Linked DNA regions of Homo sapiens: region 2 is linked to region 1. Evidence: fine-mapped QTL for protein levels in blood plasma. Region 1 holds a variant in brackets. A gene starts in the other region. All regions are shown on their reverse strands.

Region 1 (12,866 bases):
CTGTAGTTCCAGTACTCAGGAGGCTGGGGCGAGAGGATTGCTTGAGTCCAAGAGTTTGAGGCCGTAGTGTGCTATGATTACACTTGTGAATAGCTATTGCATTCCAGCCTGGGCAACATAGAAAGATCCTGTCTTTAAACACATATATATATACACACACATATATATATGTCTTTAAACATATATATATGTATATATATGATATATACATATATATGTGTATATATGATATAATATAATATGATATGACATGGTGTGATCATATTGATACAATAGTAGTTAATGATAAGTTATATGAAGAAAACTAAAGTAGAGAAGTAGAGTTGGGGTGGAAAGGGAAGGAAGGTGATGTTGGTTTCGATGGGGTGGTCAGGGTATACATTTGAGCAGAAATCTGAAAGAAATGAAGAAGAGTGACTTGCAGCTATCTAGAGGCCAAGAGTTCCTGGCAGTGAGTAGCCAAGGCTCTTGGTGGGCACATACCTGACCTGCTCAAAGAGTAGCACAGAAGCCAGTATACCTGGAGTACAGTGACTGAAATGGGGAGTGGTGGGGAATATGAGCCTGTAGGTATCAGGAAGCAGATAACAGCAGCTTATAGACCATGGGGAGGACTTTAGACTTTATTCTAAATGTGCTAAGGAGACACTGGGGGGTTTTGACCAGGGGAGCGAAATGATTCTATTTATGCTTTGAAGGATTACTTTGGCTGCTTTCGTGGAGAACAGATTATAGAGCACAGGCAAGCATGGAAGCTAAGAGATCAGCTAAGAAGAGATTCCCCAGGGCAATCCTGTCTAAGAGAAATATAATATGTATAACTTAAACTTTACTAGAAACCATATTTAAAAAAGTAAAAATAAAGGGGAATTAATTTTAATAACATTTGGTTAACCTAATAGATCTAAAATATTATTACTTCAGCTATATAAAATTATTGTTGAGATAGTTTACATTCTTTTCTTTCATTTTAAGACTTTGAAATCCAAAGATTCACATATGACCATGTTTCAAGTGCTCAGTAGTCATGTATAGATCATGGCAACCATACTGGACCCCGAAGCCCTAGATCGTTTCAGAGATGGAATGAGGCTGGACTAGGGTGGTGGTAATGGTGGTGACAAGGGGTGGTCAGATTATCAATACATTTTGAAGGTGGAAATTGAAAAATCAAGGATTACTCCAAAAGTTTTCCCCTAAGACACTGGTCTGGATGCTAGGGATACAGAGATGAAAGAAGAAGTCCTTGGCTTAAATGTTCATCTCTGATTGCGGAAGGCCTGAATCGGGAGGAATCCCTATGCCATGTCATATATGTTTTGGCAGAAGTAAGTATACGATGTTGTGGGAGAATAGAGAGTGACCCAGCTTTGGGGGTGCACTGGGGCCAGTTAGGCTACCTGAAAGAGTGGACACATGGTCATAAAATTTGGGGCAGAACTTTGAAAGGGGGGAAATGATATAGAATTTGCATGTCTGTGGGCATGGGATAGTGAGAAACACTCTCTTTAGTTTTCTTAAAGAAGGAAAGGGATGGAAAGGAGTTGGGAAGAACAAGGAGCAAGTGACCAGGGAGAAGAGTATTATGCCCTGTCCAACATAGGGTCAGGGGAGACTTCCCTGACTAGACTCTCCACACTAGTCCAGGCCAGGTTCTTTGTTTAACAGTACCGTAGGACCATGCTGCTCTCCTTTGGTGCTCTTGTCTTCTTTTGTGATTCTGGATCCATGGCCATGATTATTTGTTTAATATTCATCTTCTCTGATGGACTAGGTTGTTAAAGAGCAGGTGCTGAATCACTGTGAATCACTAGCACAAGCACAGTGCCTGGAAAGAGGTGGTTGTTTGCTATGAGTTGAATATTTGTGTTCCTGTTGAGATTCATGTTGAAACTTAATCCCCAATGTGAGTATTAAGAGGTTGGGGTTTAGGAGGTGATTAGGCCATGATGCCTCCACCCTTTTGAATGGGTTGATGCATTATGAAAGGGCTTGAGGAGGCAAGTTTTCCCCTTTTAAACCTTCCACCATGTGAGGACACAGTGCTCCTCCTCTCTGGAGGAAGCAGCAACAAGGCGCCATTTTGGAAGCAGAGAGCAGCCCTCACCAGGCACCTGAACCTGCCAGCACCTTGATCTTGGACTTCTCAGCCTCCAGAACTGTGGGAAATAAATTTGTGTTGTTTATAAATTATCCATTCTATATTTTGTTATAGTAGCATGAGGACACTAGGACAATGTTTGATAAACATTTCTTAAATGAATAAATGTGTGGAAATTGATAAGTCTGTTGGCTTGACTCTCTATAACTGGCCCCAGGGAAAATATGAAGAAGCATGGCCTCAGGGACAGCTGTTGGGCCCTGGTGAAAAGTGCAATTCAATCTGATCAGCGGAAGTCACTGGAAACCTCCCTGTCCTCCAACCCCTGACTCCTCCAACCAACCACTAAAGTTAGGTCTGGCACTGATGGGGAGCATGAAATCAGAAGTCAGCCCCAGTCCCTGTTTAGTGGGAACATCAAGATACACACAGAAGAGGCAGCAGGGGCAGAGCCTTGGGCTCTGGTAGACCCTCCCGTGGCTGCTCCCTCTGTAGCGGGATATTTTAAAAAATAAGAGAGACCAATGGGGTTGAGGAGGATATTTATTAATTATTTAGGTGAACCGGTCCAGTTGGATTAACATTCAAAGGACTGAGCCCTGAACTATGAAATCAGCAGAAGTCACTGGAAAGTCATTTCCACCTTCAAAATGTATTGATAATCTGACCACCCCTTGTCACCACCATTATCACCACCCTAGTCCAGCCCCATTCCATTTCTGAAATGATCTAGGGCTTCAGGGTCCAATATGGTTGCCACGATCTATACATGACTACTGAGGACTTGAAACATGGTCATATGTGTGAGATGTACTAGAACTGTAATACACTGGATTTCAATTAATTGAGACATGCGTTACATCATTTCTTACTTTTCAAGGAAAAACACGTTTTATGACTTGAGTTTATTTGTCTAGTGACCTTGCAGCTGCATAGCTAGAGAAACAGGTCTTCATAATGCCTGGGAAAGGAGGAAAGATAAGGCTCACTAGCTACAGAAAAACAGGCAGTTAATTTTTAAAGGACTCCAGCTCTTTCTCCTTCTCAGGGGGAATTGGGTTTTCTTACATACAACTGAGTTTCTGCTTACACATTCTTTAATTTCTTTTAATTCCTGTTCCACCTCTGGATCTTCTTCAGCAGCAGGGGCAGGCCAGGTGGCAAAATTGAAGAATTTTAGAAAGGTTAGATACCCTGCTGGAGGTCAGGCAAGACAGATGTGAGGAAAAGTGGGAAAGGGGGCTTTTTACTGCAGGAGAGTGGGTTTGACTTTCGGCTTATTTACTGTGAAGCCATGTGGAGACAGTGTATGGGAAGCTGGGATTCAGGACAAGTGACAAATGATGAGTCCTGGGCACATGGTCTTGGGGTGAAGCTTTGCTGACCACCCCCATCAAAGGAAACAATTGCAGTTGTGTGGAAAGTGTGCGAGAAAGTAGAAGCCTGTAGATGGGGTTGAGGGGAGAGCCTGAAGATGGGGGTGAAGTGGGATTGGCAGAAAAGGAAGGAATGTGTGACCCAGGGAAGGGAGTCCTGGAATGGCCCAAGCCTGGAAGGCTTCTATCACCAAATGTGAATGAGAATGTGAGAGCATTTGGGGAAAGCCTTCCCTCACTGCATGACCTTGGCCAAATCACTTTGCCTCTCTGGGTCTGTGTTTTCTTTATTTTTGAAGAATTCAAAGGAATTTTAAACATCTATTTTGGAAAGTTTTAGACTAGGTGAATACTCAGGTGTCACCCAGTGTTAGTGCTCTGAGAGACCTCAGTTGGATAGAGGGGAACTTGGTGCAGGGTCTAGAAGGAGAACATCACTTAGTGAGAGGGTAGGAAGGAGGATGTCCCTTGGTGCTAAAGAGTAGCAGTCGAGAGTGTGAGGCTAGAAGTTATGCTTCTGTATTCAAATCCTAGCATTGCCACTTACTAACTGTGAGACCTTGAACAAGTTACTTAGAATCTTTAAACCTCAATTTCCCCATCAGTAGCATGGGGATAACCACAGCACCCCTCTCCCAGAGTTGGTGAGAGGATTAGGTCATCTCCTTTTTTTCCTTTTTTTATTTTTTTATTTTTTGAGATGGAGTCTTGCTCTGTCTCCCAGGCTGGAGTGCAGTGGCGCGATCTTGGCTCACTGCAAGCTCCGCCTCCCGGATTCACGCCATTCTCCTGTCTCAGCCTCCCGAGTAGATGGGTTTACAGGTGCCCGCCACCACACCAGGCTAATTTTTTTGTATTTTTAGTAGAGACGGGGTTTCACCGCGTTAGCCAGGATGGTCTCGATCTCCTGACCTCGTGATCTGCCTGCCTCGGCCTCCCAAAGTGCTGGGATTACAAGCGTAAGCCATGCGACTGGCCAAGATTAGGTCATCTCATAGCACATGGAAAGCACTTGGCACAGTATCTGATGCAGAGTAAGCACTCAACAAACATTAGCAATAACAGTAAGATAATAATTTAGACAGGAGGTAACGATTGTAGCTGACCCACCCTCTGCCACAGCACAATAGGTATAGATTATTTTAAACCAAAGCAGACTGAGGTTATATTTAGGGGTGGCTTGGATAGTTAAAGTTGACCAGTGTAAGATAAGGAACCAAGGGAAGTTATGCAATATCTTCCTCTAAAGGCCTTTGAACTAGACCAAGCTGTTCTGCAAACTAGGCCACTCCCTTGATGCACTTACCTTGATTTGGGACCACTTCTGATATATATAGTAGTATTAGAATCTGTTAAAAAAAAAAACAACAAAAAAACCAACAACTAACCGATGAGAGCAAAAGTCCAGCACATTTGCTATTGTGAAAACATTCACCAGCTGTAATTTTGTTTCCAAATAGCCCACTGAACCACAAATTGAACTTAAATCATGGCTAGAAAAATTTTAAGGGCTGCTAACCTTGGTCAAAATCCATCAGTCAGCGGCACCTAAGGACAATGACAAGGGCCCTTGACTTGGAATCAAATGAGCTTGGTTAGACTCCCAGCTCAACTGCTTGGCTCTGTGAGTTTGGGCGAATGGCTTCCCTTCTCTGAGCCTCAGTTTTTTCATGTATATAGTGTGCTGTTTGCACAAGTGATCTCCAGTCCCTTCATGAATACACAGAGACTAGACCCTGTGACTGTGGCTGGTGTCGTGGAACAAGCAAATGAACACAAGCACTGTTAGATCCACAGAGCCCAGGGATTGGCCCTGTTGCTTCTGGAGGCCCTGTCTCACTGTCACCATCTGTCCACCCCCAGAGGCCCTATTCTCCAGCCACTCTAGAACAGTCTCTAGTTTCTCCACGGCTTTGAAACTTCTTGGGTTTTGCTCCTGCTGTCCTCTTGTTCTCTTTGTCTGAAGTGCCTTTTCATCCCTTCATTCACAAACATTTTTTTGTGTCTGCTCTGTTGCAGACACTAGGCTACCTGGGCCCTTCTCTGGCTCTAGAACACCTGCTTATACACCATGGCCTGACTCAACCGTCACATCCTCCAGGGAGCTCACCTGTTCATATCTTCCTCATGTATTTCCATCAAGAGTAGACTTTAGGCCCCTTCCAATTTGGGGCTGACCTCCCTCTTCTGCTCACTGGCTGCTGCTGGAATGATGAGCCTGACAAAGCTGTCTGGGCAAAGGCATTACTGAGTGATAAAGGACACCAATAACACTCTTTTGGGTGCTATATGTGCAATACTTTGCCCTCAGGAGGATATTTCAGGCAGGCTTCCAGTACACCACAAGCCAAGCCATGCCAGCCTGTGCATCAGGCTCTTGGAGCTCAGGAGAAGGATCTGGGCTCAACAAAATGACTATCAGAAGCCCCTGATGTGAGAATGGCTAGGTCTCATCATTTTGACTTGGCCAACACAAGAAGCCTTTCAAGTTTTAAGATAAAGCAAACTAAAAATCTGGAGGGCAAGAGCCCTTACTTCCTATGTTTCTCTGATTTCTTTTATTGCCTAACACAGCACTGGGCACATGGAAGTGCAATTCTTGCCCTCTGAAAACTCAGCTTGGGCATTAGTCCAAGCAAGCTTTCCTTCTCTCTCCTTCCCTCTACCCCTGCCCCCCGGCTCCCCTCTACCCCCTCCCCCACACCACAGCCAATAAGACGGCAAAAAGTGCCTTCTGTACTCTCTGGGCATCTTGTGCTTATCATCTGCCTTTGCTTGTCTTTTGCCCACAACATTGTATTATAGAGAAAATATCTGGTAATTGTGCCCCCACTGGACTGAGGGCTCTGTGAAGGCAGGGAATCTAGCACACTATTTGACATAAGACCAGGCTCATCAGCCTCCTAACTGGTCCTCATGCTTCTACTCTGGGGTTCTCCAGGCTACCCTCCACACAGCTGCCGAATATTCTCCTCCAGATACATCATATCACATCACCTGCCTGATTAAAACCCTCCAAAGGCTCTCCAATGTGTTTGGGGTGAAATCTTCGTTGAGATGGCTTCTTGTCATCCAGGCCTCATTTCCAGTGTTGCTTCCTTGCCTGGCTGCCGGCCCACAAAGCAGTCCTGTTAGCATGTCCCCTTTATTTTCTTTGTGCAACTCATCACCATCTAAAATGATCTGGGCTATCTATTTCTTGACTTGCCTCTTGTCTGACTCTCCCCTAGACGCAGTTTTGTTGACCCAGCACCTATAACAGTGCTCTGCATTTAGTTCTCACTCAATGAGTATTTGCAGACTGAATAGCTGATGAATGTTGGCTTCTTTGCATGGAGCTGTTTCCTACCAGAGGGAATGAACACCTGGAGTAGAATGCGAGGGCGATGCTTGAGGCAGTGCTGGGAGAGTGGGAGGGCCTGGCAGCAAATGAGCCACACCACAGCGGGTTTGGAGGCCTTGCCCCCGGGGGTGGGCTCCTCTCCCTGGACCCTGGTGATATTTGAAGGCAGCTGTCATGGCTCCCTTGCTTACCTTTTCCAGACTTGATTCCCCAAGACCTTCAACAATTTTCCCTTGTGATTGTCTCCTTTCATTATGAGGAGTAGACTCGAAACTGGGACATCTTGTGTTTTGAGGGAGCCATTTCTGGTTAGATATGACCCGTAGTTACTTCACAAAGGTTAGATATGACCCCTAGTTGCTTCCCTGAAAGCACTCAGCCACATAGAACTGCATTTTACCACAGAGGACAGGAGGGCAGAAGGCAGTAAGTGAGAAAAAGCTCAGGGAGAGGATGTAGAAAAGGTAAAGAGAGAAAGAGAGGGGGCAAATCAAGAGGGAAAAGGTTGGGGGAGAGGCAGGGGAGAGGAGGGAGGATCAGACTCCAAGTCAAGGCGGGGGATGCTGAAGGTGCGGGCTGCATGCTGGAATCCTGCTGCCCCTGCCGCCCCTGCTGGTGGCCACCCTCCTCTTCCTCTTCACCTCGGGTCTTGGCAACAAACCCCTTCCTCACTGTACAGTCTGCATGCAGCAATTTTGGGTACGTGGGCAAGAGTGGGAGAACTCATGCAGAAAAGGAAAGCCTAGATGTAGTTGTTTTGAGCCAGCACCAATAGCGGTGCTCTGTGTTTAGTTGGGACTCTGCATTCCGTGGGACACTCAGGATGGAGGCCAGCTGGCTGTCGCTCAGGGGCTCCCTTTCCCTGTCTCCTGTGTCTGGGAGTGGATCTCTGAAGACAGGGGTGATCTAATCATCCAGGGACTGATTGTCGTCTTAGGATAGAGAAACTGTTTCAGGTCAGAGCCCCAAGGGGCAATAGGACTTGAGAAACCAGTTGTTTCAGTCCTGCTGTCACTTTGGTAATTGGAGTGTCAAAATCCATGACACGGGGCTTTCTAAAATATATGTTTTAAGCAACTGC[C/T]GGAAGAGGGGGCAGTGCATTGGGGTTGGATTATGGAGCTTACTTCAGGGCAGGGCTGCATCAGGGTTGTGTAAGGTTGGCTCACCGGGCTGGTGAAAGCTGAGATCTTCCTTCCTGGAAAGGTCTTGGCAAACAGCATGAAATGATCTTATTTATCATGTTGCAGTCACACCTCTCCTAATTGAGGTGAAGCTTGGGGTAGTTTGAGGCTCTAGCTTTACTTTTTCTGAGAAGCACCGCTTGGACTCTTAAGTGCTCACCTGGGCTCTTGCAACAGACTCCCCACAGGCCATGTGCCTGGGGTCTCATTCCCACCCCAAACCCATCCCATAAAACACAGATAGAGAAACTTCTATGAAATGCAAATGTGATTATATCATTGCCCTCCCTGAAGCCTTCGGGGCTCTGCCCCTGTTCTGCTGAATGGAGTGTGAGTTCCTTGGCCTGGTACCTATCCTGTTCTCATCTGTCTCTCTTACCTCTCCCTGCCACGCCCCCAGTGCTCCTCATTCGCCCTCAAACCCCACGCCTGCCCATTTCCAGGCCTTTGCATACATGGTCTCCTGAAGCACCTTCATGTTTATCCCGGGATGTCTCCAGGTACCAGCCTTGATGTCACACTGATACTTACCCCTCCATGGAGATGGCCCCAGTGAAGGGCATCATTCCCACCTCAAAGTCCCACCGAGCTACATCCCACCGAAATCTTTTAGCTGGACCTCCCTGGCCTCTCATTTTCCACATCAGATTAATTTGAGGAGCTGTCTTGTCTCCCTGCAGGCCCGAGAACTCTTTGACAACATGGACAAGCTTTATTTATCATGAAGGCCCCTCAGCATTATACTGTGCCTGACACATAGTAAGTCTGCAGTTAATGTCTGTTGAGTGAATGAAGGGACATACAAGTGAGTGGACAAGTGAATTCATTTCTCCCCCAAGTTCTGGAGCCATCCCACCACCACCCAGGCCCCAGACCACATTCAGAGCACTGTGAAGTGTCTGGGAAGAGTTTAGCAGCTTAGACTACTTCTGATCCTTCCTCATTCCTCCCAGGAAGGCATCTAGCAGTTCAGGTTCCACTGCTAACACCAGCCTGGAGGGCAACTCATTGTTGCAGGAATTGTTGGATAGTCATCTGAAGACAGGTTGTCTCTGATTCTTTAGTCACCATGGTGCTGGGAAAGTCCCCAAAGGTCATGTTTCCCCAAAGGACTCATTAATCACAGAGATAGCTACTGATTTCCACTTGGAGTGGGAATCTTAACCTTGACATGGACATGGACATGCTTGCTCTCTCTATCTGAGAAAAGAAGCCCACTCTGCTCTACTCAGCAGAATGAGGTTTTTTTTTTTTTTTTTTTTTTTGAAATGAAAGAGGCTAATGGGAATGAAGAGGTTAAGTCACCTTGATGAGTTCTGTTCAACTACGTTTAAAGAAAATTCCGCAGGGTGCAAGTGGCTTGTTGTCAGACCTTCCCCCAGGGTCTGAAACAATTGCCTACATGCAGACTGAGTTACTAGAGACAAGGTAAATGGAAGAATCCTTGTTACCTGAGGAGGTCTCTGGGTCATCCTGCCACTCAGCTGCTCTGCTCTCTGCCAGCCCCAGGTCTCCAGACAGCTGGCACCCCCAACCCCAGTTCCTGAGAGCCACTCCTACCTCACACCCACATTCGAGCAAAGCACCCATTTCTGCTCTAGAACCATCCTATCTTCACTTTGTGGATGAACAAGTGGATGGTCCATGCTGGGATCTTGAATGTGGGGGAAAATCAGCTATAGTCCCTGCTTTCAGGGGTTCATAGTCTTGGCAAATGAGTATTTGCCATTCAGTATTTGAAGTGCAATGGTGGAATTGTCAGAGTTCTGTGGGCCTGGAGGAGGAAGTCCCTATCTTCTTGAGAAGGGTGGATGGTGAGGAAGCAGTAACACTTGTTCCAAGGCTTGATGGATCCTAAGGGACTTACAAGAGACACCAGGATGGAGCACAGCATTTTTGGTGCAAAGGTGAAGAGGCTGGAGAAAGCCTGGATGTAATTTAGGGAAGGCGTTTTGAAGAAGTGGAGGAATAAACATGTGGATGGGAGGATGGATGATAAGGGGTTAGATTTGTTCTGTGTCCTCAAAGGGGAGGAAAAGTAGGACTAATGCTGGGTGGGCATGAGGAGATGGATTTCAGCTCAGTATAATGAGGGACATTCCAAGTGTCACTCCCAAAGGGGGAAACTCTCCTTTCCTGGAGGAATTCAGGCAGGGTTGGTTCAGTCACTTGGCAGGGATGTTGGCAAGAATCACTCTAGAGTGTGGGTGGGGCAGATTGGATTAAGTCCATAGTTTTCACACTTTTTTCAAGACAAATCTCTTCCTTCAAATCAAATTGGTCTGATTGAACAGGGGGTGGAGGGGCCCTCCGATTCCATCAACTTGCTGCTCCTTACCTTCAGGTTTGAGATTCTGTAATGCTAATGCAGAAGCCTTCCATTTGCAGGTTTTGATCTCCTCTTGCTTTTTTTTCTCCACATCATCCCTTGAGAAGAGAGCATAGAACACGTGAGAAACCTAGGCCATTATACAGGCAATATTTGCTGAGAACCTTCTATGTAGCAGCCACTACTCTAGGTGCTGAGAATAAATCAGAAAAAAAAAACAGATGGACTTTGCTCTCTTGGAGTTATCAGTCTGGAGGGGTAGGCAGAGTCATAAACATATTTAGGCACATTGTGATAAGTAGTGGTGGGCAGAGGGCCTAGGGGGAGCACTTACCACCCTACTGGAAGCATCTGGTCTAAGGCCCTCCAATCCCCAGGATGCTTCTCTCTCCTCATTACCAAGCTGTGTTCAGAAGGGAGTGAAGACAGTGACTCCTCCCTGGATGTGAGCATGGGAGCAGAAGGGCTGTCAGAAAATGAGTGTCCCCAGCTGTCAGGTCTCCAAGTCAGGCACAGAAGGGACTGAGGAGGGCTTCTAGACTCTGCTGCCTAAGCTCTCAGCCTGAGACAGTTCCTGGAAACATCCTCATACCCTCGAGTGGGAGCCCTTAAAACCCTGCACCCAGAGCGGAGCCCCCAGGCCCTTAAAGCAGGAGTCTGCAACAGGCAGGTTGGGGGCACAACCATAGCCAGGCTGTGAGGGGAGGGCTGAAATCCAACACTGGCAGCTCTATATCTTCCTGCTCTGCACTGGGGAAGGGGCTGGGGAGGTGCAGCCAGTGGGGCAGATATGATTCAAGCTACTTTTCGTACTGCATTATTTTGAGCAACTCTGTCATTTGTGTGACTTTGGACTAGTCTCTTCTCCATATTACACCTCGGTTTCTTCACTTATGAAAAGGGAGAGTAGGTGACTGCTAGTCTTCCCAGCTTCCCCAGATCCTAATTCTGTGAGTCTTCTTTCTGCTGAAAGGACAGGGGTCAGAGGACCTTGATCTGGACTCTGGTTTTTGGAAGGCCAAACCCCACTGGTTATAACCTAGGAAAGGGACTTTATAGCCAAAGGGCAGGAAGATGGCAGAGGAGTCCCTGAACTGAGCACTTGGATCTGGGGCAGCTTGAAGGGGGAGCTGCAGCAGTAGCCCTGAGGCAGCTAGGGCCAGGCCTGGTAGTAGGCTTTGCAGAGAGAAGCAGATACTTGTGCTGGGCCCAGCTCTCAGCTACCCACCAGAAAGGACAGCTGGCCCTCAAAGCTTAAAATCAGAATCTTCAGACCCCCAGGCTCTCTGGACCCAGAGCACAGACTCCTCCTGGTAGTCACGGAGTCTTTTAGCTGCAGAGCCCGGACTGGAGCTCATTTCTTCACTCTGCCATTCTGTTGAGACCAGGGTGGGCATAGGGCTAAGCTCTCAGACTCCCACTTGTGTGAGCACTCCCGTTGATTAGGGTGGCAGGTCTGTTAAGAGAGATCCAATTGCTCTCTTGGATCCAGAAAAAGTGTGAGAGTAAACACACCGGATCTGTCCTTGTTTCCACTGCCTGGGTGCCAGTATTCCTCCCCAGACATGGCACTATCTAGGTCCATTTCTGGAAGACTTTCAGAGGAATAGAATTCTGTTAGGAGAGAGAGAGGGCTGTGTAGACAGTGATGGGTGAAGACAGGCTTGGGGCTGGTTGGTGAGGTAGCAGGCATATCAAGGGGTAGAGATATGCCTTTTTGCTTTCTACAGTGTACAGTGACAAGGGCCATTTGTCAGGCTGGACAGGCTGGACAGGGTGTCTGAGATGGGGCAGGGAGCCTGGGATCTGAACAGTGGGGCCTGAAGTCAGAGGTGAGGACATGGTCAGGGAGGTGAGCCCAAGGGGCCCAGCACAGACCCATGTTTTGCTGCTTCTCATTTTGTTAATACTGAATGAGGGGGCTGAGTCACAGATAAGGACAGGGCTGTCTAATGCCCAGAGCCCTGGGAAGGCAGGGTTGGAGAAGAGGTGGAAGAAGCACACAGAGCACTGACTTGGAGGAAGAGACTTTATTTGGCCCCAGCCCCTAGCCCCACAGCCAAGACAGTTTGACATAACAGGCCCCGGGGCCCTGGTTGGGTAGAGGCAGGGTGGCCTGGCCTCCTGATTAGTGGCTGTGGCCGTGGCCACCATGACTGTGGCCGTGGCCGTGGCCACTGTGATCTTGGCCACTGTGGTCTTAGGGGGTGCCCTCCCCGAGGCCTGGCTTATGGTGGTGGCCAGGGCCCTCGTCACCCTCGTGCATCTTCTCGTGGGAGGCCCAGGTTAGCCTCGCCATCAGCATGATGAACTCCTCGAAGCTCAGCTGCTTGTCTGCATTTGTGTCCAGGTCCTCCATGATGTGTTCTATGACCTTTTCATTCTTATTCTCCTTCTGCGGGTGGGGAGAGAAGGCTGTGAGAGCTGGGTGTGGCCAGAGGTGGGGACTGGGAGCACAGTAAATGACCAGCTGGCAAATGTACAAGGGAAGCCTCACCCTGGGGCTGGATTTAAAAATTAAAAATGACCATAGGCT
Region 2 (8,000 bases), not on the chromosome of region 1:
GGGGAGGGGCTGCCCTGAGTGAGGCCCAGCTCCCAGGCTCCTCGGGCACCCAGGTCTCCTGCCTGTTTACCAGTCCAGGCAGTCTCTCAGCCTGGGGGAGGCCAGTGGCTCTCTGAATGGCCTGGCTGGAGCCTCCTGCCCAAGCCAGGCTCCCTGGAGTCAAGGACAGCTCCCAAGTCAGTGGTGAGCAAGTCCCCAGGGGAGAGAGGACAGCCAGGACAGCAAAACCCAGGGTGACGAGGCCTGGGAGGGTCGGGGGAGATGGCCCAGAACAAGGGGGCCTGGGAGGGTGGCCAGAGGTGTCAGGCCAGTGAGACTGAGAAATGGATACTCAGGCCTGGGCCTGAAATCCTTGTCTGGGCAGACCCGGGCTAAACTGCCAGGAAAGAGCACTTGCGGCCTGGGTCCCTGGGAGTCCCATAGACCCTGGGGTGGGGCACAGTCTTCCTGGGCCCAGAGTGGCTTCCAAGGAGCTCCTGGACCATCCACTGCTCCAGTGACTGAAGCTGAGGACGGAGTCCCTCCTCTCCCTGATCCCTGGTAGGGAAGCATCCTGCCTGAACAGTCCCCATGTCCCCGTCCCCTCATCCAGACTGGCCATTACCGATTGGGACAGGGAAGACGATGTGGTTTTCAGGGAGGCCCAGAGATTTGGAGAAGCGGATGAAGTTCTCCTTTAGTTCCGAAGTCAGCTCCTTGGTTCTCCCTGTGACCAAGATGGCCAGTGAGTGGCTGGCAGACACCACATAAATATCGTTGAATGAGTAGATGAGGCCTCAGATCCCTTCCTCATGGGGGACCGGCCTCCCCTCCCACTAAGTGTGATCAGGAGCCAGTCCCCGAGGGGATGGGAGAGGACCCACCGTAGAGGGTGATCTTGAAGTACTCCCTGTTTTGAGAAACTTTCTTGAAGAACACCATAGCATGCTGGTTGTAGTTGGTGCTCACCACTCGGACGAGGTAACTCGTTAATCCAGGGTAACCTGCAGGCGTGGACGGTGAGGGGTCAGCCCTGCCCTGGATGGGAGGAGGGAGCTGTCCCCTCCCTCCCCAGCCCATCAACGTGGGCTTCTCCCCATACAACACATCTGTGTGGAGGGGCAGGAAGGTCTGTGCCCCTACCCAGCTCCCCGGAGCCCCAACTCAGTGCCCCACCTCACTCAAGACTCACTCTTAATGTTGCCCAGCGTGAACTCGCCGGGCTGGCAACCTGGAACAAAAGTCCTGATCCAGTAGTCACACTTCTTTTTCCTTGGGAGGGAGAGATGGGTGGGTGAGAGGGGAGACAACCCAGGCTTGGGCCTCCTGTGCTGGACAAGGTGGGGCCAGGGCAGCAGCAGGGTTCTGTTGCTCTCAGTCCGGCCCAACCCGTGACAGCTCATCCCCCACTACCTGGAGGGGCCCTACCCCACCCAGCCGAGATGGGCCTGGGCCTTCTCCCTGAGCTGACACCAGGCTGTCCCTCCTGGCCTGCCTGGGGCCCCTGGACCCCACTCAGACCCTCCAGCACCCGATGTCCTTCTTTCCTTTGGCTGCCTCCCTGGGTGGCTTTCACCCCCCCCGCCACCCAACACACAGAAACCCTGCATTTCTCCCCTGCACTCAGCTTGCTGCTTCCCTTCCTATACCCTCTCCCGGGGATCCACCTCGGTACTTCCAGTCTGCTCCATGCCAGCCGTTCCCCTAGCTCTCGGGTCAAACCTGACCCCATCCTTGAGTCCTCCCACTTCCCATCCCCTGGCACCCCAGGGCTGAGCTCCCCAACCTGTCTGTATTCTGCTCCTTGCTCCACAAATGCCCCAATCCCAATCCACTCAGCTGCCAGAGTCAGAAACCCACTGGGGGCGGCTGATCCCTGGCTCCCTGCCTCTTCACCCTGCGCCTGTTCTCTCACACCTGTGACGGCCCCGCTTCACTTTCGCTGGTCTCCCGACCCCCTAGGCTGCACCCCACCAAGTCTCCCCACCCTGCGGCCCAAGAGCCCTGCTCTAAGCCACTCCGCAGCAGATCCGCTGGGGCGGGGCCTGAGGACCGTGCTAGGTGCTAGCGTGGCCACCTGCCCCTCCAGGCTGCTCAGCAGCTCTGCTCAGGGTGACCCTGCGATGGCTTGCTCCTTCCTGAAGGGGGGGCTCTCTCTGACTCCAGCCCCTGCCGGGAACACCCCACATTTCCTTTTGAAGCAGGTTGGCTCTTTTAAGGCCACCTCCCTGGAAGCCTTCCATGAAGGCACTGGGTGGGGTTCCAGGCTGGATCCAGTGTCCCCTCCTCCCGCTCCCAGGCACCCCTCCTCTCTCCGTCTTGTTTTCTAACGACTGTGCATGTCCATCCCCACCACTGTCTGTGTGTCTGCATGGAAATGTGCTATAAACGTTGCTCTAAGGAACAGAGGAAGGATGAACACAGATGAATTCCGGGCAGAACAGCGAGGTGAACGACAGGATCCCTCAGCTTTGGCCATCCCTTGCCTGTGACGTCAGTCTGACTCTCACACCCCCAGGAGATGTCGGCCCTCACCTAAACAGGACGGAGGTGACATTGTAGCTCTTGTCTTCTTTCAGCTCATAGATGGTGGCATACATCTTTTGCGGGTCTTTGTCTTCTCTGAGAATTGCATTCCCTGCCAGGCCTACCACATACCACTTCCCCTGGAACTGCAAGGGACTGATAAGAGGCACAACCCAGGAATGGCCCTAGGAGCCACCCCTCCAGCTCTGTCCCTGTGGCACCTCTGGGCCGCCCAGCTTGGAACCATGAGCCCCTCTAGCTGGGCAGCAGGGCCCAGGCTGGGCCTGCACTGGTGAAGGGGCAGGAGCAGGAGGCCATCAGTCCAGAAGGGAGTCCTGGGGGAAGAGGCGGTTCTGAGTCTGGCAGGGAGGAGGGTGACCTCCTCACTGGAGGAGGCATGTGGCTGGTGGGCCTTCCTGAGCCTCAGTTTCCTCATCTGTGCAGGGGGACTAAAAGTGCTCCCACCTTCTTTGGACAATGGGGGTTATGGGAGAGGGGATGTGGACCTGGGGGAGTCTGTTCAGGCTGAGAGGGGGTGGGGATGGGGGGAAGGGGCATGGTTTCCACCAGGGGACCCTGGTGGCACAGAGTGAGCTGAAACCTGGACCCTGGACTCCTAGAGTCCTGCCCAACGCTCTTCCTGAGTCTCTTCACCTCTCCTCCCCTCTGCTCCCACTCTTCCCCAGGCCCTGCCTGCAGGTGCCCCTCTTGGCCCCTTACTTGGTTGTCCTGGAAGTTCTGCTGCAGAGGGACCTTGCTCAGAGGTGGGGCTGGGATCAGGTCTGAGGTGGAGTCCTGGGCCTGGGCATGCAGAGCCCCCAACAGGGCTAGGCCCAGCCACAGGAGACCTAGGGGCATGATTTCAGGGCCGAGGAAGCAGGCGCTGTGGTGGCTGCTGGGCCTGGCAGGGGTGGAAGAGGAGGTGGCGAGTGAGAGGCTCACCTGGGTGGCCCTATTTATGGGATCTAGGGTGGGTTGATTCATTCTTTGCCAAGGCCAGGAATGTGAGGCAATTGCCAGCAACTCCTGCGGAAACACTTGGCAAGATTTCTGCACCTGGTCAGGATTGGGCAAGACAGAGGGACGGGGAGAGTGAGGGACATTCCCGGAGTGCTGCACCTCTGGCAGGGACAACGACTCCCTCTGTGCCTTCCTTGTGCTGTTTCTTTCTTCTGATTGCCCTGTATGTGGGCCGGTGGCCTGTGAGCCGGAAGAGCTGTCATCTCTGACCCCCCTGCTCAGCTGGATCCCAGGGTGGGGTATGTGCCCTGTGGTCCCCTCCCCACACCCACAGAAAGGAAAGAATGAATGCCTCCTTCCAACAGATCATGTGCTGTTTCCTGGTTCTTTTAAGGGTCAGGGAAGGGTGGGGTGGCTGACAGTGGACAAGGAAAAACAAGGCGTCTGCTCTGAACTCATGGAGCCCAGAATCATGGCCCTCCCAGGAGCCCCAGTCCAGGACCTGCATGTGCTCCAGGGGCCTTGAGACAGCCCCTTGCCCCTCTCCTTGCCCCATTTGCAGGAGGGGACCCCAGTGGACCCCTGAGGGACCCTTCCTCTCCTGTGAGTGCAGTGGGAAGAGACCCCACACAGGGCACATGGGTTGAGTGCTGAGGCTACAGTCCCTGTCCTGGGTGAGTTGGGCTGATGTGTGGGGGCGTGAAGGCGCCACACTGCTGCTCTGGACACCTGTTGCTTTGGGTCACTGACAGTGCAAGGATCTGGCCTTATCCTTGAGGTCACTGAGACCATCCCCCTGACTCTAGTCACAGCCTTTTTCCATTGAACCCAGCAGCCCAGGCCAGGGGTTCTGGAACTGTCACCGAGATGGCTGGTCCCAGCCTTGTCCAGCAGGGAAGCAGTTATCTCAACGGGGGCCTGGCTGGCATCCTCGGGAGGCAGCGATGGATCGTAGGCCCTGTGCAGTGTCCGCAGAGATGGCTCACCCATGAGGGCTGAGGCCGTCCTGGATGCCTGACCTGAGGCTGGACTGAGGGTTCGCTGGTTTTAGAGCTTTCAATGGGACTAACGGGGACCTCACTGGCTCTGCCTACGTGCTGCTTGGGATCCCCAATCTGGGCTTGGGGGCAGCAGGGCCTCAGGGAAGGGGCTCTGGGAGTCCTGAGCTGGGGTTAGTCTAGAGAGGCACCCACTGGATCCCTGCCCCCTCAGGCCCTGTCCTGCCTGCCCGATTGGATGATGAAAGGGCAGGAAGCAAAGATGAGTAAAACTGCAGGGGAACGATGTTGCACCAAAGCCTTCCCTTTCTAGAGGTAGCCAGTGGCTACTCGCTCCCTCCGAACCCCCTCTTCCCCTCATGACCCTGTTCCCAGGAACTCCACCTCTGCTACTGTCTTTGACCTTAAAAAGTATCCTCTGCCAGGCCGGGTGCGGTGGCTCACATCTGTAATCCCAGCATTTGGGAGGCTGAGGCGGGTGGATCACGAGGTCAGGAGTTCGAGACCAGTCTGGCCAACACGGTGAAACCCCATCTCTACTAAAAATACAAAAATTAGCAGGGCATGGTGGCAGGCGCCTGTAATCCCAGCTACTCGGGAGGCTGAGGCAGAAGAACAGCTTGAACCTGGGAGGCGGAGGTTGCAGTGAGCCGAGATCACGCCTTTGCACTTTAGCCTGGAACAGAGCGATATTCTGTCTTAAAAAAAAAAAAAAAAAGGTATCCTCGGCTGGGCGCAGTGGCTCTCGCCTGTAACTCCAGCACTTTGGGAGACTGAGGCGGGTGGATAACCTGAGGTCAGGTGTTCAAGACCAGCCTGACCAACATGGTGAAACCCTGTCTCTAGTAAAAATACAAAGATTAGTTGGGCATGGTGGCGCATGCCTGTAATCCCAACTACTCGGGAAGCTGAGGCAGAAGAATTGCTTGAACCTGGGAGGCGGAGGTTGCAGTGAGCCAAGGTTGCGCCATTGCACTCCAGCCTGGGCGACAGAGGGAGACTCCATCTCGGGGAAAAAAAAAATGTATCCTCAGGGACTAGCCTGGCCAATATGGCAAAACCCCGTCTCTACTAAAAATACAAAAATTAGCCAGGTGGGGTGATGCATGCCTATGATCCCAACTACTCAGGAGGCTGAGGCAGGAGAATGGCTTGAACCCGGGAGGCGGAGGCTGCAGTGAGCCAAGATCGCACCACTGCACTCCAGCCTGGGAGACAGAGTGAGACCCTGTCTGAAAAAAGAAAAAAAAAACCACGTATCCTCGGGGAGGCTGAGGTGGGAGGATCACTTGGGCCCAGGAAGCCGAGGCTGCAGTGAGCTATGATTGTGCCACTGCACTCCAGCCTGGATGATAGAGTGACCTAAATCTAAAAAGTACCCTCTAGTCTACGGTGACTGCTTCACGTAGCTGAGACCAGCGGGTGGAGCCCCAGAGAATTTGAAGTTGGGGGTGAGGCAGTGTCATGGATCTCTGAGGACCCAGGACTCCAGGGTATGAATGTGGTGGGTGAGCAGGGCACTGGGTCCACAGTGGGAAGACACCAGAGCCAGGTGCAGAAGGGGAGATAGTCCCGCTTGGGGGTCCCCCAGGCTGGCTTGAAGCCTGGCTCCTCCGCATGCATGCAGATCTCTGCCTAGCTCCCACACAAATCAGGCGCTCCTCTGTAGAGAGGGCAGCTCTGCGCTTCTGTGAGGTCATGCATGGACAGCACCGGGCCCCAGGGTGTCCCTACACAAGGCTGAGTTTCTGATCAAACCCATGCAGGGCTCATTCCTCTCTCTGCACCAGCTCCAGACCTGTCTCCTACCCACTGGCCTTGGCTCTCTTCAGAGTCTAGCAGGGCTGCAGGGAGGGGGTCAGCTCTACATAGACCCACCACACAAGCTTCAGGACTCAGCACTAGGAAGGTTGGGTAAGGACTGTGGTGTAGACCTCCCATTCAGACTTGACCGACTCCAAGGGCTCCAGGGTCAACAGGACACTGGGGCCCCATTCCTCACCCACCCCCTTTCCACTGGGCCCCATTCATTGGGCCCTAGCCAATGAGGGTACACAAGTGTTCACACTGCTCAGCGCTTGGGGGAGTCCCTGGACCCCGGGGCTCTTGGGACAATCTCCACGACACGTGTGGCACTGTGCATGGCATGACAGGCACCCACCTGCCTCCCCTCGGCCCCTCCTATGGTTTCCACCGTGGCCCCTGGACTGGGCCTGCTTTCTCTCAAGGAGCTGCAGGTGCCTCTAGTGAGCCCTCAACGAGCCACACAGAAGCAATGGGGCCAAGCCCCTCCTGAGAGGAGCTGGGCTGGGCTCCCAAGTCCTGCTGTGCAGGTCGGCTTAGCAACAGCAGGAGCTTAAAGACAGGTCCCTGCCTGGGTTTTCCGTGGCCAGAGACCAGAAGTACTCCGGCTGCTCCCGACCTCCCCTCGCAGTCTCTGGCAGGCAGCTGTCCCCACTCTCCACGCCCAAGAGTGGGTGCTCCCTGGAGACTGCAGCAGCCTGTCCTCCCATGGAGAGGCCCAGGTCTCATCCATGCATGAAGGCAGCAAGATGCTTCCTGGCGGTCCTTACATCTCAGGAATCCAGTCTGACTCCCCATTCTGGTTTCCGGATCTTGTGAGTAGTGTTCAGCGTGGCCATGAATGGTTAACCCTCTGACGTGTTTGAAGGCTGGGCAGGAGGTGACTGGCTAGGCTTCTAGGAGCCAGGTACCACACCTGGAAGGAGTCTACAGTCAAGATGCCCCCAGGAGGCCCAGTCACAGATGCAGGAAGTCTTGGTGTCTGCAGATCAGCTCTCCTTGGTCACGGCAGGTCCGGGCTGGGCACCCGACTCTCAAACACCCAGGAACGGGAGGGGCTGTTTAGTGTGAGGAGCTTGCCCTGCCAGGGTCTTGGGCTGAGTCTCCTGTTTCCAGAAACAGTTTTCCAACCCCCATCCTCTCTCATGCCAAGGCTCGCCAAGGGGCCTTGAGGTCCTCCTGCCCCTTCTACCTGACAGGGACCCTGCCCGCCTGTGAAAATCCCCTCCCAACCCTCCCCCAAGTACACCCACTGGATTCCTCCCTCTGGTGAACCCCTGGGGTCCACCAGACAGGGGGAAGCGGGCCCTGCTGCTTGAGGTCTAGGCCCAGGGCCCTTGCTGGTTCCATCCCTTGGTGCCTGGCCCAGGCATGCTGCTTAGATGGGTGCTCTGCCTTTTACTCCAGAGCCTGGACTCCTATGCGGGCAAGAGGGCCCACAATGATCATAGGTGGCAGCGGAGTGGACGTCAAGGCTCTGAGCAGGGTCTAGGGTGGACACAGGCAGCGGCAGGCAGTGGTGGATGCCAGGCTCCCATGGAGCTGGGCCGCAGTCCCTCTGTCATAGGCCTCTGTCCCACATGGTCCTGGTGCTGCTCAAAACCAATGCTCCTCCCAGCTCTGCACCCCTCCTGCCCGGACTGCAGCCCCCAGCACCCCAGGAAAGGGGCATCTCCACTGCGGCCACCCCTGCGTTACCCCACATGCTCCCGTGCTCCCTGCTCTCCAGGTCCT

The links. PIP is the chance, under the fine-mapping model, that this variant and not a neighbour inherited with it causes the effect. The UK Biobank Pharma Proteomics Project read protein levels with antibody pairs (Olink). The fine-mapping took linkage between variants from a reference panel, not from the people measured, so its PIPs are less certain.
Region 2: it holds the start of LCN2, and the variant in region 1 is fine-mapped to the plasma level of the LCN2 protein (UK Biobank, PIP 0.97).

The regions. Positions count from the first base shown.
Region 1 is chr1:153,360,503-153,373,368 of GRCh38, reverse strand. It overlaps S100A9 (S100 calcium binding protein A9), which reads right to left. Exons shown (of 3, transcript NM_002965.4): 3 at 12,346-12,725. The coding sequence ends at 12,531. Among named protein-coding and RNA genes, the nearest start is that of S100A12, 8.7 kb to the left of the region's middle. The variant C/T (reference allele first, on the strand shown) is at 7,902.
Region 2 is chr9:128,144,889-128,152,888 of GRCh38, reverse strand. LCN2 (lipocalin 2) reads right to left here and starts at 3,436. Exons shown (of 7, transcript NM_005564.5): 1 at 3,226-3,436; 2 at 2,515-2,651; 3 at 1,172-1,251; 4 at 864-983; 5 at 605-706. The coding sequence starts at 3,363. RefSeq lists a silencer at 2,037-2,086 and an enhancer at 6,216-6,715.